4 linked regions of the Homo sapiens genome follow. The main gene of each other region encodes a partner of the protein of the gene in region 3 in a complex. Each region holds a gene or a part of one and is shown on either strand. Other genes may lie near its edges. The genes, in order: INTS2, SEM1, INTS7 and INTS1. A codon is read from its position in the direction of its gene.

Region 1 (7,382 bases), on a different chromosome or scaffold from region 3:
GGAACAATGGACACTGGGACTACCAGTGGGGAGGAAGAAAGGGGACAAGGGCTGAGAAACTACCTATTGGGTACTATGCTCATAACCTGGGTGACGGGATCATTCAAACTCCAAACCTCAGTGTCATACAATATACCCATGTAACAAACCTGCACATGTACCCCCCTGAATCTAAAATAAAACTTCGAATTTTTTTAAAAAGAAAAATTAAAACAAAGGTGACAACAAATTGAATAATATGTAAATAATGTTTAGAAAGGGGGATATAACTATAAATGTGAAAACTAAGAATAAAGAAATCAAATTTGACTTGGGGAAAAAAGTATATTTTATAATGAAAAAAAGGCTCAATTCATCATAAAGATATAATCATCCTAAATGCATATAAACCCAACAAAAGAGCTTTGAAATACATGAAGCAAAAACTGACAGAACAAAAAGAAGAAATAGGCAAATCCACAATTATGTCTGGAGACATCAAAACTCCTCTCTCAGTAATTGACAGAACAAGTTGACAAAAAATCGGCAAGGACACAGTTTACAAAGAGTTTTTACATATCATCTGATATTCAATAAATCTCTTAAAAAAGTCAGGGAACTATTACACTATCAATATCTCCATTTTACAGATGAGAAGTATTTTGGTTTGTTTGTTTGTTTAAGACAGAGTCTCACTCTGTTGCCCAGGCTGGAGTGCAGTGGCACATATCGGCTCGCTGCAACCTCCACCTCACAGATTGAAGCAATTCTCCTGTCTCAGCCTCCTGAGTAGCTGAGATTACAGGCATCCACCACCAAGCCCAGCTAATTTTTGTATTTTTAGTAGAGACGGGGTTTCACTATGTTGGCCAGGCTGGTCTCAAACTCCTGGCCTGAAATGATGCACCCACCTCGGCCTCCCCAAGTGCTGGGATTACAGGCATGAGCCACCGTGCCCAGCCAGATGAGAAGTATTTTGATAGAGCTCACACAATAAGTGAATGACAAAATCAGGAATTATAACTCCAGTACTTTTTCCTCCCAGGCTCCTAATTCACAAACTACCTTGCTCAACAAAATGTTTTTATTTTTATATCACTCATACCCAAACAACAACCTTCAATCACTGTAAGTTTTAAATAGAGGTGAAAAAATGTAGTCGATTTTTCTCAATTTCTACTTTATACTTCTCTGTAAACTGACAGCAGTAGGGCTAAAAAACAAAGGTCTGATTCCTAGCATTTCTCATTATACATATCCCGTATTGCTCTCTTGATATTTCACTGATACATGTATCTTCTTTGATCCCTGATTATAGATATTACATCTTCTAGTTCCTTGGGGTTTTTTTTTTTTTTTTTTTGAGACGGAGTCTCGCCCTGTCGCCCAGGCCGGAGTGCAGTGGTGCGATCTCGACTCACTGCAACCTCCACCTCCCAGGTTCAAGCGATTCTTCTGCCTCAGCCTCCCCAGTAGCTGGGACTACAGGCACCCACCACCACATCCAGCTAATTTTTGTATTTTTAGTAGAGATGGGGTTTCACCATAGTGGCCAGGCTGGTCTCAAACTTCTGACCTTGTGATCTGCCCGCCTCGGCCTCCCAAAGTGCTGGGATTACAGGTGTGAGCCACTGCGCCCAGCCTGATCTTTAAACTCAATACAATTTGTGAACTCAATATTTCTTTATACATACTAACAAACTTTCAAAAGATAAAATCTCAAATAAAATCCCATTAATGTTTCTTCTTAGGTCAAAAAGATAGGTCCTGTACATGTCCAAGCAAGTCTTTTCAATATACCATATTAGAATCATATTTACCTTCATTAAAACTATCAGGAACATTGGCCACCAAGAGACACAAGAACCAGGCACCATTTCTAACATGTAGCAAAGCTTCAGCTACATCAACTATAGGGAGCAAGGAAGGGAGCTCTACAAGAAAACAAAGTCAGTGTTAGTCTTTGTTAACAGGTGCACTCCACCACACCCAGCTAATTTTTTTTATTTTCTGTGGAGACTGAATCTCACTGTGTTGCCCAGGTGGGTCTCAAACTTTGGCCTCAAGTGATCCTCCAGCCTCAGCCTCCCAAAGTGCTAAGATTACAGGCATAAGCCACCATGCCTGGACCCAGTGTTAAAGAGTGATATTTCTTTTTTTCTTCTTTAAGACAGGGTCTTGCTTTGTTGCCCAGGCTACAGTGCAGTGGTGTGATTATAGCTCACTGCAGCCTCAACCTCCTGGGCTCAAGCAATCCTCCTGCCTCAGCCTCCTAAACTCCTAGAATTACAGGCATGAGCCACCATGCCCAACCAAAAATGACATTTCATTGTATTATTAAATATCTTTTGACATTTCACAAATGTCATCTAAAATAAAGTACTTTCTTTTCATAGTCTAGAACCAAGCTGTCCAGTAGGATACCCACTAGCAACATAAGGATACTTATATTAAAAACAGTTCAGTTCCTCAATCACACTAGCCACATTTCAAGTAATCCACAGCCACAAAGAACACTGGACAGCATAGCATAGAACAGTACAGGAAATTTTATTTTATAGAACTGGTCTAAAGAGTTATTTTCACGAAAATCTTATTTGCTTTTTTTTTTTTTTTTTTGCGACGAAGTCTCGCTTTTGTCCCCCAGGCTGGAATGCAATGGCGCAATCTCAGCTCACCGCAACCTCCGCCTCCAGAGTTCAAGCGATTCTCCTGCCTCAGCCGCCCGAATACCTGGGATTACAGAAGCCTGCCACCACACCAGGCTAATTTTTGTATTTTTAGTAGAGACAGGGTTTCACCATGTTGACCTGGCTGGTCTCCAACTCCTGACCTCAGGTGATCCACCCACCTCGGCCTCCCAAAATGCTGGGATTACAGGCGTGAGCCACCGTGCCTGGCCTATACTTTTTTTTTTTTTTTTTTTTTTTAAGAAAAGGTCTGCAGCCAGGCACAGTGGCTTATGCCTATAATCCCAGCATTTTGGGAAGCTGAGGCAGGCAGATCACAAGGTTAAGAATTCGAGACCAGCCTGGCCAACATGGTGAAACCTCGTCGCCACTAAAAATACAAAATTAGCTGGGCATGGTGCCGCATGCCTGTAATCCCAGCTACTCAGGAGGCTAAGGAAGGAGAATCACTTGAACCCCGGAGGCGGAGGTTGCAGTGAGCCGAGATCACACCACTGCACTCCAGCCTGGGTGACAGAGTGAGACTCCATCTCAAAAAAAAAAGACAAGGTCTCACTCTGGACAGAGTGCAATGGCACAATCATGGCTCACTACAGCCTCAATCTCCCAGGCTCAAGCCATCCTCCTGCCTCAGCTTCCCATGCAGCTGGGACTACAGGTATACACCACCACACTAGGCTAATTTTTTTCATTTTGGTAGAGACAAGGTCTCACTATGTTGCCCAGACTGGTCTTGAACTCTTGAGCTCAAGTGATCCTCCTGCCTCGGCCTCCCAAAGTGCTGGGATTACAGGCATGAGCGACAGCCTTCTTTACATTTTTCTGTCCTCTTTTATTTCTATCATTCACACCTATTATATACAATCTGGAAAATACAAAAAGGTACGAAGAAGAAAATTAAAATCTGCCCTAATCCCAGAATTCAAAGTTAATAAAAAATGTTTTCACAGGCCTGTAGTCCCAGCTACTCAGAAGGCTGAAGTGGGAGGATCCCTTGAGTCCAGGAATTCAAGCCAGTGGGCTATGATCCTGCCACTGTACTCCAGCCTGAGCAACAGAGCAAGACTCTGTCTCTAAAAAAAAATAAGTATTTTATTTTAATTCATCAAGGGTATTGTTCTTGAACTTTTAACAAAACTGGGATTATAGTCTACTTAACACTTTGCCCTTTGCTTTTTTCACTTAACATATTGTAAACATTTTCCAAAATCATTAACGAGCATTAAAGTCATTAAATCAAAGATACCATGTTAATGTCTGCATAATATGTCACACTATGAAAATAATATAATTTACTTAATCATTGTCCAACTATTAGTCACTTTTGACTTAAAATCACATAACATGTTTGTTATATGATCCCTAAAATAACACAGCATACCAGGCTAAGAAGTTACACAGTATCATTTAACAAGAAACTATATATGAAATCCATCTTAGCACTCAGTACAGTACCTGCTTGTAAAATACAAAGTACATCTGCAGCTTCCTCCAAATATACTGGACTCTCAAAAAGTTCAGAAGACTTGAAAAAAAATTCTCCGTTGGACTCAGACACCTTAAAAAAGAAAAAAAAAAGATATAAACTCTATTAATTTCAGATAATTAAATCCCTATTTTTATAATTATTTCTTGAGCTCACAGATTATGTCTCTTAATGTATCACTAATATACCACAGCAGAATATGCAGTATTCAATCAATTTCAACCAATTTAACCACACACAGCAGTCATGTTAATTATTATTCAGATATAGCAGTATCAATCTCAAGAACTGATTTCTATCTAAATATTTGGAGACAACTGGAATTAAAGGATAAGGCAAGCCAAAGAAATGAACTACAAATGCAGCCTACATAAACTGCTTTAAAAAAGCCAAGAACAGTCAACCTAAAGCAGTTTAACAAATATAAATTCATGGCCAGGTGCAGTGGCTGACGCCTGTAATCCCAGCACTTTGGAAGGCCAAGATGGGTGGATCAACTGAGGTCAGGAGTTCGAGACCAGCCTGGCCAACATGGTGAAACCCTGTCTCTACTAAAAATATAAAAATTAGCCAAGCATGGTGGCCATCTGTAATCTTAGCTACTCAGGAGGCTGAGGCAGGAGAATCGCTTGAACCCGGGAGGTGGAGGCTGCAGTGAGCCGAGATAGCACCACTGCACTCCACACTGGGAGACAGAATGAGACTCCGTCTCAAAAAAAAAAAAAAAAAGAAAAAGAAAAAAGAAAACAAACAAACATATATATATATATATATATATATATATATATATACGTGTTCAATTCTGAATAAACTGTTGGAAAAACAAAGAATTAAAGTTTAGATAACAAAATCTACTAAGCTTTTTGGAAATTCTGCACAATAGTTTCATAACCATATTTCCTATATAATGAAGAGTGCCAAACTAAAAAATTGGAAATCTCCCAGAGGAGAAAGGTCACTTATTTATTAGAGTCACCAAGTGAGGTATTACGGAAAAGATGAAGGAAAACTCTTGGCTGAAATTTAAAAGTATCAAAATAGGCTGGGCATGGTGGCTCATGCCTGTAATCTCAGAACTTTGGGAGGCCGAGGTGGGAGGATCACCTGAGGTCAGGAGTTCGAGACCAGCCTGGCTAACATGGTGAAACCCCGTCTCTACTAAAAATACAAAAATTAGCAGGCATGGTGGCGGGTGCCTGTAATTCTAGCTACTCAGGAGGCTGAGGCAGGAGAATCGCTTTAACCCAGGAGGCAAAGGTTGCAGTGAGCAAGATCACACCATTGCACTCCAACCTGGGCAACAAGAGCGAAACTCTGTCTCAAAAAAACAAACAAAAATAAATAAAAGTATCAAAATAGTAAAAAAGAGAAGGAAATTATAATTGGTGATGGAAATTTTAGAAAAATTTTTTAACATACCTTAAAAACTGTCTAAAACTCGGCCGGGCGCAGTGGCTCGTGCCTGTAATCCCAGCACTTTGGGAGGCCAAGGAGGGCGGATCACGAGATCAGGAGATCGAGACCATCCTGGCTAACACGGTGAAACCCCGTCTCTACTAAAAATACAAAAGATTAGCCAGGCATGGTGGCGGGCACCTGTAGTCCCAGCTACTCGGGAGGCTGAGACAGGAGAATGGTGTGAACCCGGGAGGCGGAGCTTGCAGTGAGCCGAGATTGTGCCACTGCACTCCAGCCTGGGCGACAGAGTGAGACTCTGTCTCCAAAAAAAAAAAAAAAAAAAAAAAAACTATCTAAAACTCACCAAAATCCTCTCTACCAGTATTTTCTATGAAAACAGAATTTAGTCCTTTCTCTTTTTGTCCACAATTTATAAAACTAAACTTTATTTACTATAAATTAACTGACTCCCCAAAATTATAACAGTAAATAAACATAAAGATCTAATTTAGTGGGTTTTTGTGGTGGTGGTGGTTGTTGTTTTTGAGGCAGTTTTACTCTTGTTGCCTAGGCTGGAGTGCAATGGCACAATCTCGGCTCACCACAACCTCCACCTCCCAGGTTCAAGCAATTCTTTTACAGGCATGCACCACCACTCCTGGCTAATTTTGTATTTTTTAGTAGAAACGGGGTTTCTCCATGTTGGTCAGGCTGGTCTTGAACTCCCAACCTCAGGTGATCCGCCCACCTCGGCCTCCCAAAGTGCTGGGATTACAGGCGTGCACCACCACGCCCAGCTAATTTAGTTATTTATATGATAGAACTTTGACATTCAAAAATTTTAAATTCAGAGTTTCAATTAACTATATTACCCAAAGGTCTATGACCTAAGTAATCTATAATTTTACAAAGAAGATAACTTGAATAGCTTTCATTAGTGTAAAGAAGCACTTTGGTCATTTAGTGATTGAGACTAGCCAATCATCCTACATTCAATTCAGCATTGATACTCCCCTCTGCTGTCATATATGAGGCTGTTACTGCTCATCCAGTGTCTAAATGAATCACATACATTTTTCAGTTATTCACATTCAGTTATTGAAAATGTTACTTCATTACACTTTATGGGAGAAATTGTATCCCATAAAGGTATTATCTGCTAATAAATTTGATAATCTGTACAAGCCTTGAGATAAATCCCTTTCTAAATGTCAAGAAGCCACTGTGTATGGATTCCATACGGAAAAAAATCCCTCTCATAGAAAATGCAGAACAAGTATAAATGAGAGAAAATGATAATTAAGAGAAGGACTTTAAGGCAGACTTATAATATCCTTTCAGGCTTTGAAAGGAAAACAAATATATAGAAATAAAAGTAGAGAAGGCCGGGCACGGTGACCCATGCCTGTAATCCCAACACTTTGGGAGGCTGAGGCGGGTGGATCACCTGAGTTCAGGAGTTCGAGACCAGCCTGGCCAGCCTGGTCAACATGGTGAAACCCCATTTCTACTAAAAATACAAAAAATTAGCTGGGCGTGGTGGCGGGCACCTGTAATCCCAGCTACTCATGAAGCTGAGGCAGGAGAACCGTTTGAATCTGGGAGACAGAGATTACAGTGAGCTGAGATCACACCACTGCATTCCAGCTTGGGCAATAAGAATGAAACTCCGTCTCCAAAAAAAAAGAACAAAATAAGAGTAGAGGAGAATTCAACCTGCCTGACTTCTTGTCTCTTTTTCTGTCTACCTCCCTATACATAGACATCAAATCATGCATACTTTGAGCTGTGGTTAAAAGAAATGCACCTTGTTCATAATTGCCAACAGT
Region 2 (7,382 bases), on a different chromosome or scaffold from region 3:
TTTTTTGAAGGACATAAAACAAAGACAGATATAAAAAGAAAGGGCATGAGCTTGTACACATAGAATTAATCTGATCCTCGAAATAAACTGAAATCTGTAAAAAGAACAGAAGGGGCTTCTAAGAGCCATATACTGATCATGAAGAATGAGAAAGAGCAGGTACAATGCTTGGAACAGATGATGTAACATTAACAGATTTTAGAGAAAAAGCAGGATTATTGTTCAATAGCTATCATTTTTATCTTGTCCATAAAACTATAAAAGGAAAAACAACATAATTAAGACAAAATTGAAAACTAAGACAGGTAAGATAACTGCATTAAGGCAGTTTAAAATCTCAAGGCTCTGGATAATTACATCTCAGGGTACTAGAAGAACCAAAAGATGTAGTCAAAAATCAGTCAGCAATATTTGAGACACGGAAATGAAAAACTGTAGAAGTATCAGTATAACAGTGAAAGGTAAATTATACTATTTCTAAAAATGAGAAAAAAAGTAGATAGGTAAAATTATTATCAGTCTCCAGCAAAATTCTAAGTCTTTATAGAGCCAATAAAAAAAAATGCAGTGTAGGAGCTGGTGCTACTGCATTACTATTAGAAATCAAAGTTTAAAAATTTATTATAAACTATTTCACTTTCTGTTTGAACAAGCTTACTAGACTAGTAAATTAGAAGACTGGAATACATATATCTTCTATATCTTTACTTGAGCAAAGTATATGACAGTCTATTTATTCTTGTAGCCAAGACAAATAAATACAGCCTGAATCAAAATAAAATTAGGAGGGAAAAAAGTCTCTTCAACAAATGGTGCTGGAAAGACTAGACATCTATATGCAGAAGAATGAGCTGAAGCCCTATTTCATAACATATACAAAAATTAACCCAAAGCAAAGACTGACATGTAAGAGCAAAAACTATAAAGCTCTTAGAAGAAAACAAAGATAAATCTTCATTACATTGAATTTGCCAATGAATTCTTAAATATGACACCAAAAGCACAAATAACAAAAGAAAAAATAGATTAAAATACGGCTATAATTTAAAACAAAAAAGAAAAATAAGTTTTGGCAAGGATGTGGAGAGACTGAAACCTTCACACCCTGCTAGTACGAACGCTAGTGAGAACATAAATTGTTCAACTGCTGTAGAAAACAGCTTGGCAGCTCCTCAAAAAGTTAAATATAGAATTAACGTATGACCCAACAATTCCACTTGTGTGTGTGTGTGTGTGTGTGTGTGTGTGTATATATATATATATAAAATTTCTTTTCAAAAGAATTGAAAACAGGTACTCAAATATATGTACACGTACGTTCATAGCAGCACTATCCACAATAGCTAAAAGGTGGAAACAGTCTGAATGTCCATCAACTGATGAATGTATAAAACGTGGCATATCCATATAGTATTATTATAAATTGGAATATACAATATGGAACATGTATATGAATATTATTCAGCCATAAAAAGGAATGAAGTACTGATGCATGGTACAACATGAATGAACCTTGAAAACATTATGCTAAGTGAAAAAAGGTACGCACGCAAGGTCACAATATTGTATGATTTCATTTATATGAAGCTTCCAAAACAGGCAAATACTTAGAGATAGAAAGCAGATCAGCAGCGGCCAGGGATTAGGGCAAGAAAGAACGTGGAATGACTGCTTAACAAGTACTGTGTTTCCTTTTGGGATGCTGAAAATACTGGAACTAAATAGAGATGATGGTTGCACAATATTGAGGATGTACTAGAAGCCACTGAACTGTACACTTTCAAATGCTTAATTTTATGTTACATGAATTTTACCTCAATAAATAAATGAAATCAGGTAGATTTATACATGAATATGACACAGTACATTCTCACAACCCCAATCTCCATTCCAGTTTGAGAATCACCAATCTATTAGGTCCCAGCACTCTATGATTCTAATTTCTGCTGAGTTATTTGATATTGGTAGAAAATTAACATTGACAGAATTAAATTCCTAAGGATAAGAAATAGCAAATATGCTTCTATTTTACTACCTTTGTAAAAAGACCAGAAAGAATAAAAGTTGTATGCAATTACACAAAGTGTTCATGTTTAGAATCACAGGAGATGAAGACAATATGTCTTACTTTACACAGTTCAAAAACCTATTTCAAAGATTAAGTAGCTTTTAAGAGGTTAATCATCTATGTAAATTACATATTCCATGCTTATAATTAATACTGAACTACAATAAAAATCTGGCTTAAAACTTACCGTAACTGATTAGAGAAGTCATCCTCTACATTGTCATCATCCCAATTATCCTCCCAGACATGTGCATCTTCATCTTCATCTAAGCCAGCCCAGTCTAAAAATAGAAACAGATGCTGTCTAAATATTTCTCATACATTATTTCCACAATTACAAAAACTTTGAAAAGCTTGCTACTGAACACTCACAATTCAAAAACAGCTAAAACCATATCTATGAAAAATGGTATCTTCCTTAAATCTGAGCTTATGCTGTCTAGTTCTCTCAATTCTTGAGTTTGCAGATAACCTAAAACAGAAGTTAATACAAAAAATTCTACTTGCCAAGAAACTTACAATTTCAGGAGGATATTTACTTTACTGATTTTTCTTTGAACTCATTTTTAGAAGGTCGACTTCACAATCTTTCAAAACACAACACCAACAACCCTAAAGCAAGTTGAATGGCAGGAAGATACCAGTGTGAAATTCAAAACTGCAAAACGTAAGGATAACTTATATACAAATATTTAAAAGTAGACCAAACTGTAAGCCACCACTAGTATCTGCCTAATACAACTGATACAAAATTTATATTTTTAAAGGAAGAATAAACATAAATATGCATAAAGAAGAATATTGTAGTTTTTAGTTTTCTAGATTTTCTTCCTCCCTTTGGTAGTGGTAGAGGGGAGGTTTAGATTGAGATTTCAGCTTTTGTTTAGAATGGTGAGAAAGTACGTACGTATTACCACTATTCTCTAACCTCAAATCTCAAGCTTTAAATATGCTATGTGGGTTGAGCCTGGAAATAGAAATTATCTATTTGATAGTTATTTTAAGGAGTCTTTATAAAGATGTCTAATGGAGTTTTATGTTACAAAAAAATAATTTAAATAAAGACTAGATACTATGTTCTTGAGTAAAGGGGGTGACATAACTCAAAATCACAACAGAACTGTTTCAAGGTTCTAAGACAACAAGCAGATTCTACTCAGCTTGAACCACTTCCAAATAACCAGCTTCCTAAACTGTTAAGTAGGTCGCTTCCATCTGCATTGGTCCCTAAAAAGGAAATAATCATGTGTCAAAAGATTCAAGCCAGAAATATAAAATAATATTTTACACTTTTCTGCTAACCTTGTAAGTCTTTGAAAAATACTGTAGAGCCTTATCTTTTAAAGCAACTATCTTTTAAGAAACAAAATTTTTCATCTAATTATGATTTGATTCAAAATGTTATTTCAATAGTTATTAAGTGATGTCTTCAAGTTGACTTTACTTCTTTTAACTTAGAGAGGGGAAAAATATTTAAGAATGGTACAATTTTTTTAGTTTATAAAGTTAAACTCTGATGATCATTTACAACAAAGATAAAGCATCTCTCCCTCGTCTAATAACCATCTCACCCTATTTTAATGGCTGGGAAAGGAAAGGAAAAAGTAGAGATAAAGTCCCAGGAAAAAGGAACTGGCTCATGAAGAGGGGGAAAAAGAATACTGTGAGCAACATTTTAGGTAGAACATATAAAAAAGATTCATAACAATACCTCTATAGTTCTTTCGTATTACTATACAGTACTTCATAGTTATGACACTACTGAGTAAACAAAGACGAAAGAGCTGGCCAAATTCTTCGTTAATTATCTGATAAATCTAGATAAACTTTGTAGCCTTAATACCATTATCTTAAGCAGTAAGAAGCACTAATGTCTACGTAATAGCATACCACCCTTCCAATTATCATAGATGAGGAATCTGAGAAATAACCTTTCTATTACAACTTATTAAGCAGTTAAAATTAATATGAGCACTGTTAAGAAAAATAGTGCTAACACTGACAAACCAGAATCTATTTTGGATGGATATTTTAAACAGTGTATTAACCTGGATTATGTACTTAACTATATTACATAAAAAGCTTATGTGATAGGGTATAATGCCCCAAAATAGTATGTCCAACACTTACAAATTCTCTATACTATACATACATGTTACAATATATGTAAGTTACAATACATACAAACTCTACTCAATGTATAACATGAAAAAGCTGTAACTATTGTAATCTCTGGGTTTAGCTGACATCTTCTTGGATCTCTGAATTGTGTTTTAATTTTCAACTCTAACACTACACTGACAACCAAGCAATTTTAATCACTCAGTTTTAAAGGGTTAACTCCAGAAATAGTTTTGAAAAGGACAAAATATAACCAAACAATGATACCCATGATATCTGATATACCTCATGTCTAATGCCATCCTTCAATATGTAGATGGCCTTATAAAGCATACACTTTACCTTAAACACTAAATGCATTGCCAGAATTGTGATTAATCATGTAAATAACCACAGCTGTATTTGCTTCAATGTGTATGCCTCCAGATGTGTACTGGTTTAAAAAAAAAAAAAAACCCTACATTTTAAAAAGTCAGAATTGGAAATAACCAGTAACAGATGCCTAATACATAAGTTTCTAGCAATTCTTATTTTAGACGTTGTCCCAAATTGGGCTTTCTTCACTTTGGCTAGTTGAGAATTACATCTGTGACTAGCTTTAAATTTAAAAAATCTGAGCTATCCAAGATCTAAGACATACTTCACCTAAGTATCACCTTGACATTTAAGTACAAAAAGAATCTTCTTTCAACTTAGAAAATTCTTTTAATACTTACTTTCCCCTACTCTGCAACATACATTTCCAAATTTCTGAAAGGCATGAAATATAGCATTTTTGAGAAAAGTAAAAAGGAAATCCCACTCATACTAAATAGGGTTGCAAATGTTCTATTCTACACCAATTTTCAAGAGTATCGAATTCTTATTCCATAAAAATAAAGGTATTCTGAACATAAACAACCTAATCTCCAACCAAGTTTCTTCAAATACAAAACATGCAAGTATATACAGAACATTACATGAAAAGAAAAATACTAAATTGAACATTCACCATCTTAGGTGTGTGTAAAAGAGAAGAGCAATACTTACAAACAGCATCACTATACTCATGAGTATGATAATGAAGCCACACCATATCCAGTGATTCTGAGATAAATTTACAAGTGTTCCTGCTGAGGGTGTATGAAACAAATTATTTTTTTTGAAAATTTCACTTCTGTAGGTTATCATAATGCAAACACCCGTATACCCTGCAGATCTAATGTCTAGTCAGTGACTAAGAAATCAATACGTAGCACGGCACCACTTTGCTACTATATTTTCTCTAACAAGGACCAAAACTGTTAGTGGAGAACTTCAAACAAAAAGCAAGTCATAAACAATGTTTTTATTGGCAGGCTGTTGGTGAGCTTTCAGTTGTGGCAGAGTCTGAAACAAAGGATCAAAATAACTTCATAATCATTCATAACTATTCTTACATTTTTTAAAAAGGAAATCCAAACCCAATTATTTTCATCAACAATTAAAAAAAATATAAGTCTGGCAGAATGGTTCCACTTTGTTGGTTCTCTTTGTTGATTTGGGATTTTTTTTACTTTAAGTTCTGGGATAGATGTGCAGAATGTACAGGTCCGTTACATAGGAATACATGTGCCACAGTGGTTTGCTGCACCCATCAACCCATCACCTAGGTTTTAAGTCCCACACGAATTAAGTATTTCTCCTAATGCCATCCCTCCCCTTGCTTCCCACCCCGACAGGCCCAGGTGTGTGATGTTCCCCTTCCTGTGTCTACTATGTGTTCTCATTGTTCAACTTCCACTTATGAGTGAGAACATGCGGTGTTAGGTTTTCTGTTCTTGTGTTAGTTTGTTGACAATGATGGTTTCCAGCTTCATCCATGTCCCTAAAAAGGACAAGAACCCATCCTTTTTTATGGCTGTATAGTATTGCACAGCGTATACGTGCCACCTTTTCTTTAACCAGTCCGTCACTGATGGCCATTGGGATCGGTTCCAAGTCTTTGCTATTGTGAATAGTGCTTCAATAAACATTCATGTGCATGCGTCTTTATAGTAGAATGATTTATAATCCTTTGGGTATAACCCAGTAATGGGATTGCTGGGTCAAATGGTTATTTCTAGTTCTAGATCCTTGCGGAATCACCACATTGTCTTCCACAATGGTTGAACTAATTTACACTCCCACCAACAGTGTAAAAGCGTTCCTACTTCTCCACATCCTCTCCAGCATAAATTTTTAAAAATGTATTTGTTTTTTCTTTCGCTTCCTGAACCTGGTAGATTTGTGGCTTTAATTTTAATTCCATAAAATTTACAAAAACCATTACTCTCATCTTTTCCAAGCCCTTATGCCCTAGATTCATCTCATCTTGGTACCCTCATTCTGATCTACCCTTCAAATTACTGAGTCAAGGGTATCCAATCTCAACTTCACCATGCATATTCTTAAGACACGCATGGGCAAAATCACAACCCCAGATTTCTTCTTATTCTCAACACCCCATATCAAACTAGTTGCTAATGCTTCATCACTTCTACCTCCCTTACTGTTGTGGCATCATTCTCTTCACTTCATTTCTAATAATAATTTATTTCGCCCTTAGTCCTCACCTGAGTTATTTCGACAATCTGCTAATTAACCTCCCTGACTCTAGTCTTTCTATCTTTTCAAATTAATTCTGCTGGGTTAATGTTTCAGCATATTGCCTAAAGGAAACTTACACATATCACTGTCATAAGCAAAACAAACAAAACATTTTAAAAACCACTTCTCATCTAGTTAATTAAGGATTAAGTCCAAACTGGTCAGAGGCTTAAAGCTTTCCATGCTGAGGCCACAAACCACCTGCATTTGCAACTACTATTTCATAAGCAAATACAATATACATACACATTTATTTTTCACTTCAAAGCACCTACACCTTTTCCCTTCTTTTGAAAACCCCTTTCCTACGTTTCTTTTGAAAGCCCTGTTCAAAGGTTGCTACCTCGCACTGTACATAACTGGAAGTAATCTGTTTCTTTTGAACTGCTGTTGCACTTTACTATCAGTTGAAGGAAACCAAATTACATCTTACTCAGAAGCCCAACAGGTAAGAGAAACAAAGGCAATGTTGCTATGGTTTAATTGGTGGTAGGGAGAAAAGGGCTTTGAGTCCCACCCCAGGATAAACACTTCCAAAATACTAAAGCACTCTAGCTTGGTGTTAAAACCACTGATTCTTCTCTCC
Region 3 (7,834 bases):
ATTTAAAATAAAAAAACTTATAGAATAAGAATATGAAGAAATAAAATATTTTGTACAATTATACAATGTGTCTGTGCTTTATGCTACCTGTTACCACAAGGGTCAAAAAGTTAAAAAATTTAAGATGTTTGTAAGTTTAAAAGTTACAGTAAGCTAAGGTTAATTTATTATTGAAGAAAGTATTTTTTAATCAATTTAATGCAGCCTAAGTATAGAGTGTTTATAAAGTCTACAGTAGTATAATGTCCCAGGTCTTCGTGCTGACTGACTACTCACTCACTGATTCACTCACAGCAACCCCCAGTCCTGCAAGCTCCCATTCATAGTAAGCACCCTCCACAGGTGTTACCATTTTTTATCTTTTATATCCTATTTTTACTGAACCTTTTCTATGTTTAAATACACAAATACTTACCATTGTGTTACAGTTGCCTACGGTATTCAATACAGTAATATGCTACACAGGTTTATAGCCTAGGAAAAATATATAGCTTAGGTGTGTAGTAGTTACACTATCTAGCTTTGTGTTTATACTCTGTGATGTTTGCACAATGATAAAATCACCTAATGATGCATTTCTCAAAATGTTATCTCCATTTATAAGCAATTGGATGACTATATACGCATTTCTAAAACTCACCTGTCTGAAAAACCTGATGTCTCTGAGAAGGTTGAGGTACCACTTTTTCCCTTTCCCTTCATCACTTCCTTTCTTCCACTTTATAAAAGAAAGGCATTCCCGTGCCCCAATCTTAAACCTTGCACTGATCCAAAGAATAAAAACTTTTGGGTATCAAATATTTTTAAATAAAAACAAATAAACTGGTGGAACCTTAACTAAGAGATAATTAAATAATTCCTTCAATAAAGGGACCATAAACACCCAAATTCATCTCTTTAAAAAGATGGACTTCCAATAAAATTTTACTTTTGGTTAATAATTATCAAAATTGGTAATCTATATTGTTTTAATCAATCATATAGTACTAATAATTGAATTGAAAATTCAATCCATAAAGAAGTTTTAATACTTGGAGGCTTATGACAGAAAACAGCAATTTAAACACATTTTTTGACACAGAAGGGTATGACAGAGTGATCAGTAAAAGAGCTTTTCAAGCATAAAATTAAATTACATTAGGAGAAATTCTGTAGGAGAAATGAAATGGAAATAAATTCAAGAGGAAAAAGCAGCTATATGGAATGTCCAGCAGATAAAGAGGAGTTTGTATTTTTCTAAAAAATGGATGATGTGATTATCAAATCACTATAGTATTTAAATTATATTAGATACACTTAAAGGAGTGATATAGCATTTTTATTTTTAAAATGTCAATATTCCCAATATGGTCAGAAATTATATTCTTTGCATTTGTTTAAGTTTATAATAAAAACTTTTAGATATCAATTTAAAAATACACAGAAGAGTAATCAGATTTCCATTTTAGAAGGATCATTAGCAGCAATGTGGAGAATAAACCGAAGACAGACAAACTAGGAGGCCATCTGGGAGACTTCTTACAATCCAGACAAGAAGGCATTAGGGCCCAACCTAGGGAAATGGAATAGTAAAAATAGAACACATCCAGCATACAGTAAAGATGCATAATCATAACAGATAAAGAAGAGAGGATGGATTCAAGAGATTTTAACGAAATGTTTTGAATGTGTAACTGTGAGGAAGATGAAGAAGTCTTTAATTTACTCAGGTTTCTGGCAGGTTTAAATAATGAGGCCACTCTCTAAAATTGGTAATATTGCAGGTTTGGGGGAAAAGCTGAGTTCAGTTTTGGGTATTTGAGTTTGAGATGCTTGTGGGATTGACCGTCTAGGTGCTAATCAACCCACACAGCTTTTATAGAAATGAATCTCAGGTACAGGAAGTCTTCCAATAACATAATTTTGTACAATGTCATTTCGTTATACTGTTCATGAGGAAAAAATCAATTCCTGTTTGAGGCCATTGGCCGTGTGGAGTTTGTACATGCTCTTCCCATGTTCATAGGGGTTTTCTCCAGGTACTCTGGTTTCCTCCCACATGCCAAAGATGTGTATGTTAGGTTCACTGGTGTGTCTACATGGTCCCAGTAGACAATGAGTGTGTGTGAGTGCTTCCTGTGATGAAATAGTGTCTGGTCTAGAGCTGGTTTCCACCTTGTACCATGAGCTGCCAGGATAGGCTCCGGGCACCCACAGCCCTGAGCTGGAATAAGTGTGTCAGAAAATGAATGAATACAAATCATTGTAAAATAAAAATGGGTAAACTTTACAATAATCATACAAATGAATGACAATAAACGATTTGGTATGAAAGGGCTCAGTGAGCTGCCATATTTGTGATTGTTTTTGACCTGGGTGGTGGTAGGAGGTGCTCCTTCCAATTTTCACTTTGCAAACATTTATTCCTTGATTTAGCCCACCACCACTATGACCGAGGTCACTCGCTGATACACCAAAACTTGGATAATTATCTCACCTGTTTTTATTAATCTTTCTCAAATATATGTATAGCACACAATTATTTCAACATTTAATATTAAAAGTACTTTGAGTCTTTCTTTAGAAGTTCGGTGGTGTTTGTGTGACCAAAATATGCCACTGAAACAATTCTTATTTATATCAAGTAGCCTATGGTAGAGTTAGTTTAGTTATACACTGTTTTCCCTAAAGTCACAGTTTCCAAGAGCCTATCTAGACATTAAGTGAGGACTTACTATATAAGTAACAGAAGGTTGTATGTATGTAGAAGTGGAAGAAGCCCTGGTTGTGGCTGTGATCATCCAAAGGAGTAGGTAGAAGAAGAAAAGGGGTCAAGGATGGAACACCAACACTGAAGAGGAAAGGAGATGATTCTATAGATTTCATATAATAACGAATGAATTTCAGTGACTATTATGTAACAACGAATGAGTACTTGAGAATAGGAAAGAGGGAAGGGAAAGGTAAACACATGGAGAATTAGGAGAAAATCTGTCACAAAATAGAGGCTGAACAGCTCCCCCAGAACACACATATAGTAAGGTGTGGAAGTATAATAAAACCCAGGCAGTTTAACTTCAAAGACAGAGTTCTTAGCCACTGTGCGTACTGTCACTCTTAAACAGAGGACAAAGAAGTTACTCAAACAAGGTCCCAGGAGAGACAGAAAGAGGAGCATTTAAGTATAATTACAAAGATTATCTAAGAGGGAAATAAATAAGGATGGTATAAAGTTTCAGACTGCTAGCAGGAAGTTGAGGGACTACTTCTCAGTCTCTTTCTCAATATTATTTTCCTAGACTCATCGCTGAATATAAAAATTCCCTTCTCAGGTTCGTTTTCCACATAGTTTCAAGGGGAAAAAGAACCTCTGGCTATAGTCGACCTTCACATGAGTGAGATTTTATTTCTGTCCAAGGTTAATCTGGGTAGTTAGCTCCCTTATCTGAAACTTACCAAAAAGTTTAAGTTGATGACATCCAAATCTAACCTCAAATCTCTTATTGCCAATGTTTTAGCGTAAGAAAATAAGTTAGATTTCTACGTATTAACATGGGAATACGTTCAACTTATACCATTAAAGTGAAAAAACTGGACGTTTTGATCCGATTTCTGAAAATAATAGGTATTACCTCTAGCGTCGAAAACATCTGGAATAATATACTTCAATCTATTAACAGGGGTCATCTCTGGCGGATGTGGTTACAGGCATCTTTCACTCTATAATTTAAATTTTTATGACCGTGTAGTAAACGGGGAAAATAAGATTTTGTTCCTGTTAGAAGCAGATATCCTGTCTTCTCTGCTTGACTGAGTTCCTTAACAGCGGGTCATATTCACTGGTATATACCTATAGCACATAGCTGGGCTCACTAAGATTCTACAACAAACGAATGAATTAATCAATGATTAGGAGTTTTGAGCATCTCAAATAACCGTTGAAGGAAACATATACACACAAATGCATGCATTTTCCCGTTAACGCGCAATGGAGATGTAAGCTGTAAGGGGCCTTGGAAGGCAGTTATTTCGACGTCCCTGCCTACGTTACGATTTTAAAAGCCCGATTACGATTACAAGTGTCCCGAGGGGATGAAAGTACAGCTTTCTTTAGTAGTCCCTGCTAACACTAATTTACCCTTGCCATGGGAGAACTCAGAAGCTGAGTTCAGAATTGGAGTCGGCCCTGGTCGGAGGTGGCGTGTGTTTCGGGGGAAATGAATTCCGCCAGCTCCGAGCAGCGGTTGGGACCGTTACTCACCATTTCTCAGGACGCCAAGCTGGGGCTGGCGGAGCACCGAATTGAAGAGCATCAGGGTCGGAGGAAAAGCCTCAGCTGAGAGAAAAGTCGTAGAAATGCCTCCAAGTTCAGCAGAAATCGCAGCTTGCGCCTCTCACAACACAAATCGTTATCGCCTCCAACTCCCGCCACTGTAAGCCCCGGCCGCCAAACTCCGCGCCAAACTGACGTCACGCTCTCTGATTGGCTTCCGAGCGACGTCCGGGCGCCTCAGAGTCATTTCCCCCTTCGGATCCCCGCCTCCTTTTCTCCCAGCCGCGGGAACCTGGAGTCCAAGAGCTCCTTGAGCGCCTGCGCAGGGGGTAGCAGAGGCGCGGACAAACCGCGGGGTGACCAGGGCGCATGCGTAACAGGGCTTGACAGCGCGCGGAAGAAAAACCAGCAAGAAGGCGGCGGGGGAAGATGGCGGTCCTGGGGTAGAGTTTGCAAGCTTTCTGACTAGGCTAGTCGAGTAACTATTCGGGTCATGGCGTCAAACTCAACTAAGTCTTTCCTGGCAGATGCCGGCTATGGCGAACAGGAACTGGATGCCAACTCTGCCCTTATGGAATTGGACAAAGGTATTCGAAAGAGAGGGCTGAATGGGTGAAACAGGCGTGGGGGGAAGTGGCGCCACCAGGTGGTGGTTGCTTTGGGAGAAGACGGATAGGCGCATGCGCATGTCTTCGCTGGGCGGGGAGCGCCTGTGCTTTTGCTGGGGCGTGGGCTTTGACCCCTTCGGGAGGTTGCGGGAAATTTGCAGGATTGTGTGACTGGCCTTATACCGGCTAAACAAGTAGCGAGCTCTAGTGAGAGGCCCGTTTTGACCACTTGAGGGAGCAGTCCCCCGATTTTCTAAGCAGTGACAGTGGCTAGTTTCTAAGAGACACTGCAAAGAAATTGTGAAATTGGTTTTCAGTCTGTTCAGTTGAGACCAGGTCTTCATGAAATGTGCTGAATAGTAATCTTGCACCGACTTGACAGCGATTCATTTGATTTCCATAGCTCTGTTACCTGCGGGTTACAAGGCAGGCTAAACCTGGCCAAGACCATAAAAAAGCAAGGGCCCTGCTCATTCTCTGCGGACAAGTTCCAGGAGTTCTGTTGCCGTACAGGGAGCAGCTTGGTGTAGAGGGAGCTTTGGGGTTACACTGAGTTAAGTTTCAATGCCGCTGATTTTATGATTAACTTCATCTAGCCTCGGCTTGTCGTCTGCAAAGTGGGTACAGTACCATTGAGCCGGCAGAATTGTATTAAGTGACTTAATGGTATGCAAAAGAAGCATTTAGTAAATGCTGAAGAGATATACCTCCCTTCTTAGATGTGGATATGGGAGGCAAGGTCGGAAATTTGTTAGTAAAGAACTCGACTAGTAATATGAAACCTTTATTTCATATTGAGGATTTTTATTGTACGGGAAACATTTCGGCAGCTGGTATACAATTAAATCTTGATTAATCGTAGCCAATATATAATGTTGGAGAACTGGACTAGAACTCAGAAGGGTTTGAGCCACTTCCCAGTTTTCTGAGTTGGACATGTCTATTAACTTTTTTGGGACTCTTTTTCTGTTTATTTTTTAAACTGTGAATATTTTTAGTGGGTTAGTCTAAATAAGAGTTTCTCAGGCTCTTAAAAAAGCTTTTACCTTATTTTGATAAACACAAAAATTTCACAGCCCCCTAATGGGATATTCCTTTGGTTGAGTCTCAGTATCTTTAGTGCACCCCCATCAACCAAGAAAATTATGTTGAACTTTTCCTTCTCTTACCAAATCTTTAGGGGTTTTCTCCTCTGAAAAAAAAAAGTATAATACTAAATGTGTTTTTCTCTTTTTTTTTGGAGACAGAGTGTTGCTCTGTTGCCCAGGCTAGAGTGCAGTGGCGCCATCTCGGCTCACTGCAACCTCCGCCTCCCGAGTTCAAACGGTTCTCCTGCCTCAGCCTCCCGAGTAGCTGGAATTACAGGCGCCCGCCACCACGCCCGGCTAATTTTTGTATTTTTAGTATAGACGGGGTTTCACCATGTTGGCCAGGCTGGTCTCCAACTCCTGACCTCAGGTGATCCGTCCGCCTCGGCCTTCCAAAGTGCTGGGATTTACAGGCATGAGCCACCGCGCCCGGCCTTAAATGTGTTTTTCAAACACTTTCCTCCTCATTCTGATACATTTCTTTCTTATTCCTCAGTGAAAGTTACAGGTCAGGATAATATCTAATATCCCTACGAGTTCTAAGGACATTTTCTACCATTCTGGTGCAGCTGAGCTTGTCTCATGCTGACAATAGGATAGTGGTTGTGGAACAGGGATAAAGATGGGGCACTGAAGAGGAGTCTAGAATGGTTTAATTCCTCAAATTTTGCAGTTGTAAGAAAAAAACCACAATTTTTCCTTTTTAAAGAAGAGTTGAAATGAAAATATTTTATATCTATAGGAAAGAAATCAGGTGTCAATCTTAGACACAGAGTAAGTGATCATTTGCACTCCTCCCAGCAATGCCTGGCGTGAGTGTTTTACAGGTGAATCTCAGGCTCAGAAAGATGACTTGTTCTTTTTCATCTCATCTGTAGTAACTTTTAAAGCTGTTAGGAAATTAAGTTATAGAAATAGCCAGTTTCGTGTAGAATATAGTTGAGTATTTTAAATATTGAGTCATTTCATCTTGTACCTGTTAAAGTATTTCTGTTTTGTGAGCTAAAGGTCAGAAGGCTACAAGTTCCAACTCTTTTTTTCGTTCCCAAACTCCAAGGAATACTGTTTCTGAAATATCTCCCCCACCTCAGCATACACACTCAGACACATGACTTATTTGATCGGGCTTTGTACTAGGAACATGGCAGTTAATGAGACAAAACTCCTGCCCCTATAGAGCTTACATTCTAGACAGCAGATGCAGACACTCCGCAAATATAGCAAACGTGACAGTTAGTGATACATATTATAAAGGAAAATGAAGCAATGAAAGGGACTGGAGAAAACTGATCTGGGGCTGGAGTTGATTTCTTATTTTATGAAGTATAGGCAAGAAAGACCTCCTCAATCAAGTGGAAGAACAGCAAGTACAAAGGCCCTGAGGTAGAAGCCTCCTTTGCATGCAGTTATCTGGAGCAAAGTAATAGGCAATGAGTATAGAAAGATAACCAGAGTCAGTCGGGCGTGGTGGTTCACGCCTGTAATCCCCGCACTTTGGGAAGCTGAGGCGGGCGGATCACGAAGTCAGGAGATCGAGACCATCCTGGCTAACATGGTGAAACCCTGTCTCTACTAAACAAAATACAAAAAATTAGCCAGGCGTGGTGGTGGGCACCTGTAGTTCCAGCTACTTGGGAGGCTGAGGCAGGAGAATGGCGTGAACCTGGGAGGCGGGGCTTCCAGTGAGCCGAGATCACACCACTGCACTCCAGTCTGGGCAACAGAGCAAGACTGTCTCGAAAAAAAAAAAAGAAAGATAACCAGAGTCCCGTTCAGGTAGGGCCGTGCAAGCCATCAAAAGGACTGGCTTTCATTCTGAGTGAGAAAGGAAACCATGGAGGATTTTCAGCAGGTGTGTGACATGATCTGACTTTCCTTTGAAAAGT
Region 4 (7,382 bases), on a different chromosome or scaffold from region 3:
CAGGGGTCAAACTAGGGTGGCATGGGAGCGTGTGGACACAGGCATGCAGGAGAGGCCAGGACGCTCAGAGGGAGGGCCGGGCGGGGAAGCCACATGTGCGTGGAACGGGACAGAGAGCCAGAGAGCTGCAGGGGTGGGTTCAGACGGCTTCGGCACAGGGTGGGGCGGCCTCTGCGCCCTGGGATGAGCACCACGCTCAGCAGCCCTCCCCGGCCTCAGGAGCAGCATATCTGACACGACACGGCCTTCCCAGGAACACCCTCCAGACCCCGCTGGACCCTCGCCGGAGGCCCGAGGCTTCCCTGCAGCCCGTGGGCACTCACTGGAGCGGGTCGGCGTGCTTCTGCAGGAAGGAGATGGCTGCTGGGGCATTGTAGGTAATGTACTTATGGATGAACTGCACAAACTTGTTGATGAAGGCAGCCAGATGGCGGGAGGACTTCCTGTAATTCTGCAAAGCAAAAGCGGCACCCTCGAGCTGCTCTGCCCCGCAGGGCCAAAACAGAGCCTGTGCTCCCATCTGCTCCCAGAGCCTCAGGGCATGGACCCCACAGCCAACGAGCCCCCTCTGCCAACCACTGGGGCGTCACAGGCCCAAGGGTGGCCGGCATGGCCTGTCAGGGTGTGGACATGGCTGTCTGGGGCATGTGCCCAGATGGATGAGGGGCTCGAGGTAGCACAAGCGACACGCAGAGAACAGCACGGAGGGTCTGGGCTGGGCTTCTGAAGGACGTGGGCCCCCCAGGCACGTGAGGGGCAGCAGGCAGGGGCTTCCCAGGGTGGGAGCTGGTCCCCAGGGCAGGTGGCCTGGCCTGGGCCCTGGCTGCAGAGGTCCTCCCAGTCCCTCCGCGAGTGGGTGAGGCAGGCCTGGGCCAGAGCAGAGGGAGTGGAAGGGAGCGCGAGGGCGGGCGGCGGGAGCACACACCAGCAGCAGGCGGATGAAGGACAGAAGGCAGTCCCACAGCGCCCCCTGGTGCTCGCTGCGGAACACGTGCGGCTGCAGCAGCTCCAGCAGGCCCAGCACGTGCAGGAAGCAGCTCAGGTGGTTCTGCTGCCGGAACTCCTGGAAGTTGAGGTGGGTGCGGCCGTGCAGGAGCGCCGCGATCATGGGCAGGTGCCTGCGGGCGCGGTGAGGGCCCAGTCAGCCCCGGCCGGCGGGCTCACCTGGCGCACGTCCCCAGGAAGGCCCCACTGCCTGCCCCGGGAGCCAGACCCCGTGCTGCCCCCCAACCACCCTCCTGCCCTAAGGAGGTGGGGATGAGATCGCCCCTCTCTGAGGCCCACCCAGCTCCTCCCACCTGAGGCCCAGCTCAGTCCTGACTTCCCCCGGTCAAGCTCAGCCCATGGGAACATGCTTTTTTTTGTTGTTTTTGGAGTTTTGCTCTTGTTGCCCAGGCTGGAGAGCCGCAGACCCCCCTGGTTAAACCAGTGTCTGGCGAGGGCAGGGCTTCTGGGACAGCACCTGAGCAGCAGCAGCGGGTGCGCCACCGCCAGCTTCCGGCAGGCCATGCTGGCATCCGCCCCTCGGTTCTCCAACGCCCGGGAGTCGCTGGTGTCCGCAAGGAGCGTGATGAAGCGGTGGATGAGTCCGTCCAGCTGCAGGGAGGGGCGCTCTGAGGCCGGGGCCGCTGGCTCCCCTCACTTGCCCACCCACACTCAGCCTGGCCGCCAGCTGTGGCCGTGATCCACCGCGTGGCACGCCATGAGCAGAGGAACTGGCTCCTTACGGCTTCCATGAGCACCTCGGGAGGGCAGGCAGGCCACAGCCAGCCTCTGGGAAAACCCCATACAGAATAAAAGCAAAGCTCCACACCAAATGATACAATGAGCGGGAAACAAGCCAAAACTACACATCGGCCAAGCAGGCGCAGTGGCTCACGCCTGCCATCCCAGCACTCTGTGAGGCCGCGGCAGAAGATCACCAGAGCCCAGGAGTTCAAGACTAGCCTGGGCAATGAAAATAGCCCTCTCTATTTTCAAAAATACAAAAAGAGTAACTGGGTGTGGTGGCACGTGCCTGTGATCCCAGCTACTCGGGAGGCTGAGGTGGGAGGCTCACTTGAGCACAGGGGGTTGAGGCTGCAGTGAGCTATGATGGTACCGCTGCACTCCAGCCTTGGCAACAGACACCCTGCCTCAAAAACCCTCCACAAAACTGCACATCAAGTGTGATTTCAACAAATAAAATGACATATAAGTGAAAAAAACCACAAGCAGAAATGATTAGAGAAAGTCAGCTGCCCTCTGTGGTACCAGCAGAAGACAGGCTGCAGGTTCCGGCCTGCGGTGGGGAAGCGGGTACGGGAGGCCCAGCTCTCCCCACCAGGGTCACTGGAGAGGAGCAGACGCAGCCGTCCGCCAAGACCCGGGCACGAGTCCCCAGCAGCTGTCACTGCCCCAAACTGAACGTGACCCCACGTCCACCAGCAGGTGAACAGATAAACCAACGGCCGATCCACACAATGGCAGGCCACCCAGTGCCCACAACACCACGACTCTCCAGACTGTGCGAGCAGAGCACCCGCAAGCTCCCTCGGTATAAAACTCAACGCAGACAAACCCACAGGGCCACAGGGCGGCGCGGACTGGGAAGGGGCAAGAGGGGTAGCCGGCGATGGCCATGTACACTGTGGCCTCCGCCCTCCCTCCCTGCCCGGCCAGGGCACCTGGGACGGCGGCGGGGAGCGGCAGAGTTGCGCCCTCACCTTGCAGACGCTGCTGCTGGCAGCCCCTTCGCTGTGCAGTAGGACCTCAGGCACGGGCACCCGCAGCTCCGGCCGCTGTAGGTAGAGCTGCAGGAGAAGGTCTCGGCAGCGCCTGCCCAGCACGCTGGAAGAGGTGGAGCAGGGCTCACCAGGCGGACGGGGCCCCAGTGACAGGGGTGGGTGGACGGGACCAGGCGTGATGGGAACCCACCCAGGGCTGGGCCTCGACCCCCTCCATGGCTCACTCCCAGGCAGCATCTGGGGCCGGGGGGCCTGAGCACCTGTCTCCCCACTGCTGGATGCAGCCTGACAGGTGCTCCGTCACCTTCCTGACACTCTCATCGTCCCCACAGCAGCAGCTGAGCAGCAGGGGCAGCCGGGCCTGGATGAGGCTGCAGGCGGCTGTGTCCCCGTCCTGGCTCCGCGTCTCCGCCTCGGCCAGGATCAGCTCCACCAGGCTGATGAGCTCCGGGCCCTGGACCCGCAGCACCAGCTCCTCCCGCCGCTTCTGTAACGGGTGCCTGCATCAGCCCCGGAGCACCACCGCCTCTCCCGGATGGGCCACCCCCTCTCCCGGATGGGCCACCCCCTCTCCCGGATGGGCCACCCTCCCAAGACCTGCCTGCGGGGTGCGCTGGTCCCGCCCCTGCCAGATGCGAGGAACATGGATGCAGGCCCAGAGGAAGTCCAGAGAGGCAGAGGGGTCGAACCTGTGGGGAGGCAAAGGTTCCAGAGCACGAGGTGTCTCGTCTCAGCATGGGAGATACCAGTCAGAGCCGGCGCTGGGAGATTTCTGGTGAAGGCCAGTATGCGCGCAGCCCAGGTTGGGGACAGGGAGGCGCCCACCTCTGTTCCCGGCTCTTGCCCAGCAGGACTCGGATGCACTGGTGCAGTGTGGGCCAGCTGGACTGATGCGTGAAGAGGGTCAGGAGGTAGGGACGGAACGAGGGCACCTGGGCCTGACCTTTGCCCTGGGGAGGGAGGAAGAAGCCCGGATGGCCTCACCTGGGCCAATGGCAGGCTCTGCTGAAGTCAGCTGACAGCTTCCCCAATGAGCCACTCAGAGAGCCGAGGCTTGGGGTGCTGCCGGTAACACCGGCCCCGTCATGGTGCTGGAGGGCCGCTCCTGGTGGCTGCGCTGCATCTCCCCGCCCCTTCCCACGGGAGCCATGCCACACAGCGGAGGTGCCCGGGGCTCCATGCAGCCTCTCTGGTGAGGCCGTCCCTCCCTGGAGGATGTGGGGAGCCCAGCACCTGCCCTCCCTTCTCCTGGCCACAGCCCCATTCCCTTTGGGAAGATGGAGGCCCCTACATGATCTACAGGGTTTGGCAGGGCCGACCCCACCCCATCCACCCACCCCATCCCCACATCTGGCTGGTCACAGTGCTGGTCCACAGGTGACTGTGACCCTGGCCTGGGTTCTGCTAGGGCCATTGGGGGACCTACCCTTCCTCTGGGTTGCTACAGGGACACATGGCCTGAGAGCAGGGGGGGTGCTGGGGCCCCTGCAAGGCTCGCCCAGGCCAAGGCTGCTGCACTTCAGGTCAGGAAGAGCCTTTACCCTGGGGTGGGTCCCCGTGCTGAAGCTGGGTGCCACCCACCTTCCTCCGGGAGAAGAGCAGCCTGAGCTGCAGGTCGGGGCAGCTGCTGACCACCTCGGGGTCCAGCATTTCCAGCCAGTCCACTAGGAGGCCTGACGAGGGCCCCAGCCGCACGGCCTCCAGGCTGCAGGGAGAAGGTGGCTCAGGGAAGGGCTGGTGCCACCCGCCTGCCCACCCTGGCCGTGTGCAGCACCCCAGCTCACCTGCCACCGTCCGCACCCGGCTTCCCCCCAGCCAGGGGCTCCTCCTCCTGCAGCAGCAGGGAGCTCACCACCACAACGGGCTTACAGGCTGGAAACGGGGAGGCAGCATCCGCAGTGGCAGAGAAGAATGCAGTCAGCAGCTCCTCCAGGTGGGGGGACCTCACCTCGATCAGCCCCTGGAGGACTGCGCAAGGGACAAAGAGACATGTGGGTCACTCCCAGGTCGGGTGGGGGCCGCTGAGTGGGTGTGGGCTAGCCAGGGTGGGGTGTGGGGTGAGCATGTGTGGGACACAAGAGCAGAGTCCAGCCGGAGCCAGAGAGGAGAGTGCAGCCGGGGCCGGAGAGGAGAGTGCGGCCGGGGCTGGAGAGTGCGGCCGGGGCCGGGGCTCACTTTGCTGGGTGCAGCAGTGATCAGGGGCCCCCCAAGGAGGAAGCTCCAACTCATTCTCAAGAGGCCCCGCCCTGAGCCATCTGGGAGGGGACCTCTGTGGGCACTTTCCGGGGACAGTGCTGAGCAGACACTGTCCGTCCCCCACTGGGCAGCTAGAAGGAGCCTCAGGTTTGGGTCTTCCCAGGGCCGCCGTGGCCCAAGAGGATGGTGCCAGGAAGGTACCTTTGCTGATCAGGTCCGGCTCCACGCTGCACTGCTCCCCAGACCTCAGGGTGGCGATGACGGCACGGACGGTGGAGCTGACCACCTCCAGGTCCTGACGGAAGGCCAGGGCCTCGGCCAGGCGCAGGAGCCCCCCTCGCACTGTGGGAGGTCTGTGTGAGTGCCCTGTGGCTCCAGCCCTCACCCCATCGGTGTATCCCATCCAGGGAGGCCCCACGGTAGAAGGGCTCCCCTGGGCCCACGCGGGTACCCACCCCCCAAGCCACTGCCCAGGCCTCGGGGTGCCAGGCAGCTTGGCCACTCTGAGTGAGCCCCTGTCCAGTGCCCCCCAGCCGTCTGCCAGCCCGGCGCGGTCCTCACCATCACTGAGCCTGCGCCCGGCTGAGGCCTGGCTGGCAAGCATCCTGAGCTGTGCCCGCAGGGGCCCGCCCTCCACGCCAGGGCTGTCCAGCCACTGCAGCATCTGCAGGAGCACCTTCAGGAAGAGCGAGGAGAAGCCGGTGTCCTGTGGCACACAGCGCTGCGGGGACAAAGTGGCACGTGGCTACCCTGGCAGAGGACACACGGGGACCCGGCACCCGAGGCCCAGAGCAGGGCCCGTGAGGCTGCTGAGACCTGCCGCGACCGGCACTTGGAGCCTGGGCCAACCTCATCCCGCCTCCTGTCTGAAACGGTGCCTCCCCTGCACGGGCCCAGACGACCTCACAGAGACCCTTTCAAAACCCCCCAGCTGGTGAGGGCTCCCACGCGGTTCAAAGGAAAAAGTAAACACAGACACCAAGTAAAACACAGTCCTAGGTACCAGCAGATGGGGAAAGCAAGGCAGGAGCGCCGAGCCTGGGTGGTGCAAACAGGCGGACGCCGCACTGCCCCCACCTCCCGTCCCGGGGGAATGTTCACTGGAAAAAGGGGACCTGCCGCCACTCCCTGGGGCACTGTCCTTTCTCACTTGGAAACTGAGACCCAAGACCCACAGAGGAGCAGTCACAGGACACCCGGGCCGTCCTGCGGGAGGCAGAGCCCTCACTGCCCTCCTCCCCCGCAAGAGGCCCACGCCCAAGTACCTGGTACTGGCAGAGCTGGCGCAGCAGCGGGCAGGCCAGGAAGTGGCTACGGTGCATGGACATCACCAGGGCACCGCCGTGTGGGGAGCTGAGCAGGGTGGCGAGGGCCTGCAGGACACGCACCGTGATGCCCGGCACCTCGGGGCTGCCCTGGACGACGCGGGCCAGCTCCTGGCCCAGGGCCTGCTGCAGGGCGAGGGCCACGGGGCGGGGACTGGAGCTCTGCCACCGAGGGTCCGGGCTGAGCGGGAAAATCTGGAACGGGGAAGGCCAGTGTCAGGAGGAAGCGGAGGAGAAGGAGGAGGAGCGCAGCGGAGAGGCTAAGCGCCCGGTGCAGCTCCGTGCCAGAACCGCGTCCCATCGTGTCCCTGTTCATTCGTAGCCCCCACCTTGTGGCCTGAGGGGCCCAGGGCCCTTGAGACCTGTGATGTGAAGCAGTGAGGGACCCCAACACCCAGGAGCTGCCCCAGAGAACAAAGGTGTCCAGAGCCTGCCCAGGGACCACCAGGCTCTCCATCAGGAGGTGGTGAGGCCTGCAGGATCCCCGGCTCCAACAGCCAGACCTCAGGCGAGACCTGCAACCTCAGCTTCTGTACACATCAAACCGGGTGCCCCGCGCAGAGGGGTGTGCAAGGATGGCAGGGAGGATGCAGGGCGACCCCCTTCCCCAATGTTGGCCTAGCCTCCATCTGAGAGCATGGGGGTGTTACGTGAAAGCAGCGTGCCAGGGTCAGGCGGTCACGCGTGTAAAGGCCGCTGTGCGTGTGCAGCGTGCCTGGGTCAGGCGGTCACGCAAGTAAAGGCCGCTGTGCGTGCGAGGCGGCAGCGAAGGCTGCACGCAGGAAGAGGGGCTGCAGGTGGAGACCCACATGCAGCAGCAACGCTACCTGGAGGAACATGCCAGCCAGGTCGTCCTCAGGGCCCAGCACCCGGAGCTGGGTCCCCACCCGAATCCGGCCCTGGCCTATGGGCTGCTCTGGGCTGCTCTTTGGTTTGGGTGCCTCTGTGCTGTCTGCAGAGACAGGAGAACTGTCAGTGGCTGGACACTTTCTGACCTGCTTCCAGCGGTGGGAACTGTACAAGCCATGGCGAGTCCTGCCCGGGGACTGTCACCCAGGAGGAAGAGCTCAGACCTGGGCTCTGTGTTCCCCAAGGACCCCAGGTCTCGCTCAGGTCCACAGGGATCTCAAGACTC

Evidence for each region.
Region 1: the proteins of INTS7 (region 3) and INTS2 are in contact, whole or in part, in a cryo-EM structure (PDB 8RC4), measured with the Homo sapiens proteins. Residues at the interface, in NP_056249.1 of Homo sapiens: Leu38, Gly39, Glu40, Cys42, Glu43, Val46, Arg47, Asn77, Phe78, Leu81, Cys82, Leu84, Lys85, Gln88, Gln89, Asn114, Asp115, Pro116, Val117, Ala120, Ile121, Arg124, Val153, Glu156, Val159, Phe160, Ala163, Leu195, Lys196, Pro199; in NP_065799.2 of Homo sapiens: Gln27, Lys28, Val29, Cys48, Arg51, Met52, Cys55, Ala56, Ala58, Asp59, Gln60, Ser61, Trp64, Phe92, His93, Ala186, Glu187, Pro189, Ile194, Val218, Asp220, Ser221, Asn223, Glu224, Ser259, Leu262, Lys263, Arg265, His285, Gly294.
Region 2: the proteins of INTS7 (region 3) and SEM1 are in contact, whole or in part, in a cryo-EM structure (PDB 8YJB), measured with the Homo sapiens proteins. Residues at the interface, in NP_056249.1 of Homo sapiens: Lys410, Leu413, Asn414, Val417, Leu448, His451, Cys452, Ala454, Ala455, Met458, Glu488, Val491, Thr495, Leu517, Glu518, Ser521, Asn522, Gly523, Trp524, Val526, Tyr527, Arg528, Arg531, Gln532, Arg535, Ser548, Leu549, Thr551, Gln552, Val553; in NP_006295.1 of Homo sapiens: Ala36 (codon at 2,320), His37 (codon at 2,317), Val38 (codon at 2,314), Trp39 (codon at 2,311), Glu40 (codon at 2,308), Asp41 (codon at 2,305), Asn42 (codon at 2,302), Trp43 (codon at 2,299), Asp44 (codon at 2,296), Val48 (codon at 2,284), Glu49 (codon at 2,281), Asp50 (codon at 2,278), Phe52 (codon at 2,272), Ser53 (codon at 2,269), Gln55 (codon at 2,263), Leu56 (codon at 2,260), Arg57, Glu59, Leu60, Glu61, His63, Gly64, Tyr65, Lys66, Met67.
Region 4: the proteins of INTS7 (region 3) and INTS1 are in contact, whole or in part, in a cryo-EM structure (PDB 8RC4), measured with the Homo sapiens proteins. Residues at the interface, in NP_056249.1 of Homo sapiens: His150, Asp151, Leu187, Ala188, Thr189, Pro190, Val191, Lys194, Thr223, Ser224, Tyr225, Pro226, Ser227, Thr228, Asn262, Asp263, Pro264, Arg265, Lys266, Pro303, Tyr304, Gln349, Glu350, Cys352, Tyr353, His354, Asn355, Arg357, Ala360, Gln384; in NP_001073922.2 of Homo sapiens: Leu1378 (codon at 6,385), Gln1381 (codon at 6,376), Gln1382 (codon at 6,373), Gly1385 (codon at 6,364), Gln1386 (codon at 6,361), Ala1389 (codon at 6,352), His1429 (codon at 6,232), Phe1430 (codon at 6,229), Leu1431 (codon at 6,226), Cys1433 (codon at 6,220), Pro1434 (codon at 6,217), Arg1437 (codon at 6,208), Gln1438 (codon at 6,205), Cys1440 (codon at 6,199), Gln1441 (codon at 6,196), Pro1476 (codon at 5,547), Ala1479 (codon at 5,538), Gln1480 (codon at 5,535), Met1483 (codon at 5,526), Leu1484 (codon at 5,523), Gln1487 (codon at 5,514), Arg1552 (codon at 4,671), Pro1554 (codon at 4,665), His1555 (codon at 4,662), Leu1556 (codon at 4,659), Glu1557 (codon at 4,656), Glu1558 (codon at 4,653), Pro1613 (codon at 4,409), Ser1614 (codon at 4,406), Gly1616 (codon at 4,400).

Annotation. Positions count from the first base shown.
Region 1 is NC_000017.11:61,917,601-61,924,982, forward strand, and holds part of INTS2 (integrator complex subunit 2), read right to left. Parts: coding exon 7,361-7,382; intron 4,228-7,360; coding exon 4,125-4,227; intron 1,914-4,124; coding exon 1,800-1,913; intron 1-1,799. UniProt on the Homo sapiens protein: Component of the integrator complex, a multiprotein complex that terminates RNA polymerase II (Pol II) transcription in the promoter-proximal region of genes.
Region 2 is NC_000007.14:96,692,543-96,699,924, forward strand, and holds part of SEM1 (26S proteasome complex subunit SEM1), read right to left. Parts: intron 2,350-7,382; coding exon 2,256-2,349; intron 1-2,255. UniProt on the Homo sapiens protein: Component of the 26S proteasome, a multiprotein complex involved in the ATP-dependent degradation of ubiquitinated proteins.
Region 3 is NC_000001.11:212,032,349-212,040,182, reverse strand, and holds the start of INTS7 (integrator complex subunit 7), read left to right. Parts: upstream 1-4,625; 5' UTR 4,626-4,745; coding exon 4,746-4,839; intron 4,840-7,834. Other genes in the region: DTL (denticleless protein homolog), read right to left, coding at 4,241-4,292. UniProt on the Homo sapiens protein: Component of the integrator complex, a multiprotein complex that terminates RNA polymerase II (Pol II) transcription in the promoter-proximal region of genes.
Region 4 is NC_000007.14:1,473,243-1,480,624, forward strand, and holds part of INTS1 (integrator complex subunit 1), read right to left. Parts: intron 7,200-7,382; coding exon 7,075-7,199; intron 6,443-7,074; coding exon 6,188-6,442; intron 5,644-6,187; coding exon 5,484-5,643; intron 5,265-5,483; coding exon 5,124-5,264; intron 4,695-5,123; coding exon 4,511-4,694; intron 4,432-4,510; coding exon 4,308-4,431; intron 3,677-4,307; coding exon 3,552-3,676; intron 3,416-3,551; coding exon 3,328-3,415; intron 3,214-3,327; coding exon 2,987-3,213; intron 2,830-2,986; coding exon 2,706-2,829; intron 1,597-2,705; coding exon 1,463-1,596; intron 1,119-1,462; coding exon 926-1,118; intron 452-925; coding exon 324-451; intron 1-323. UniProt on the Homo sapiens protein: Component of the integrator complex, a multiprotein complex that terminates RNA polymerase II (Pol II) transcription in the promoter-proximal region of genes.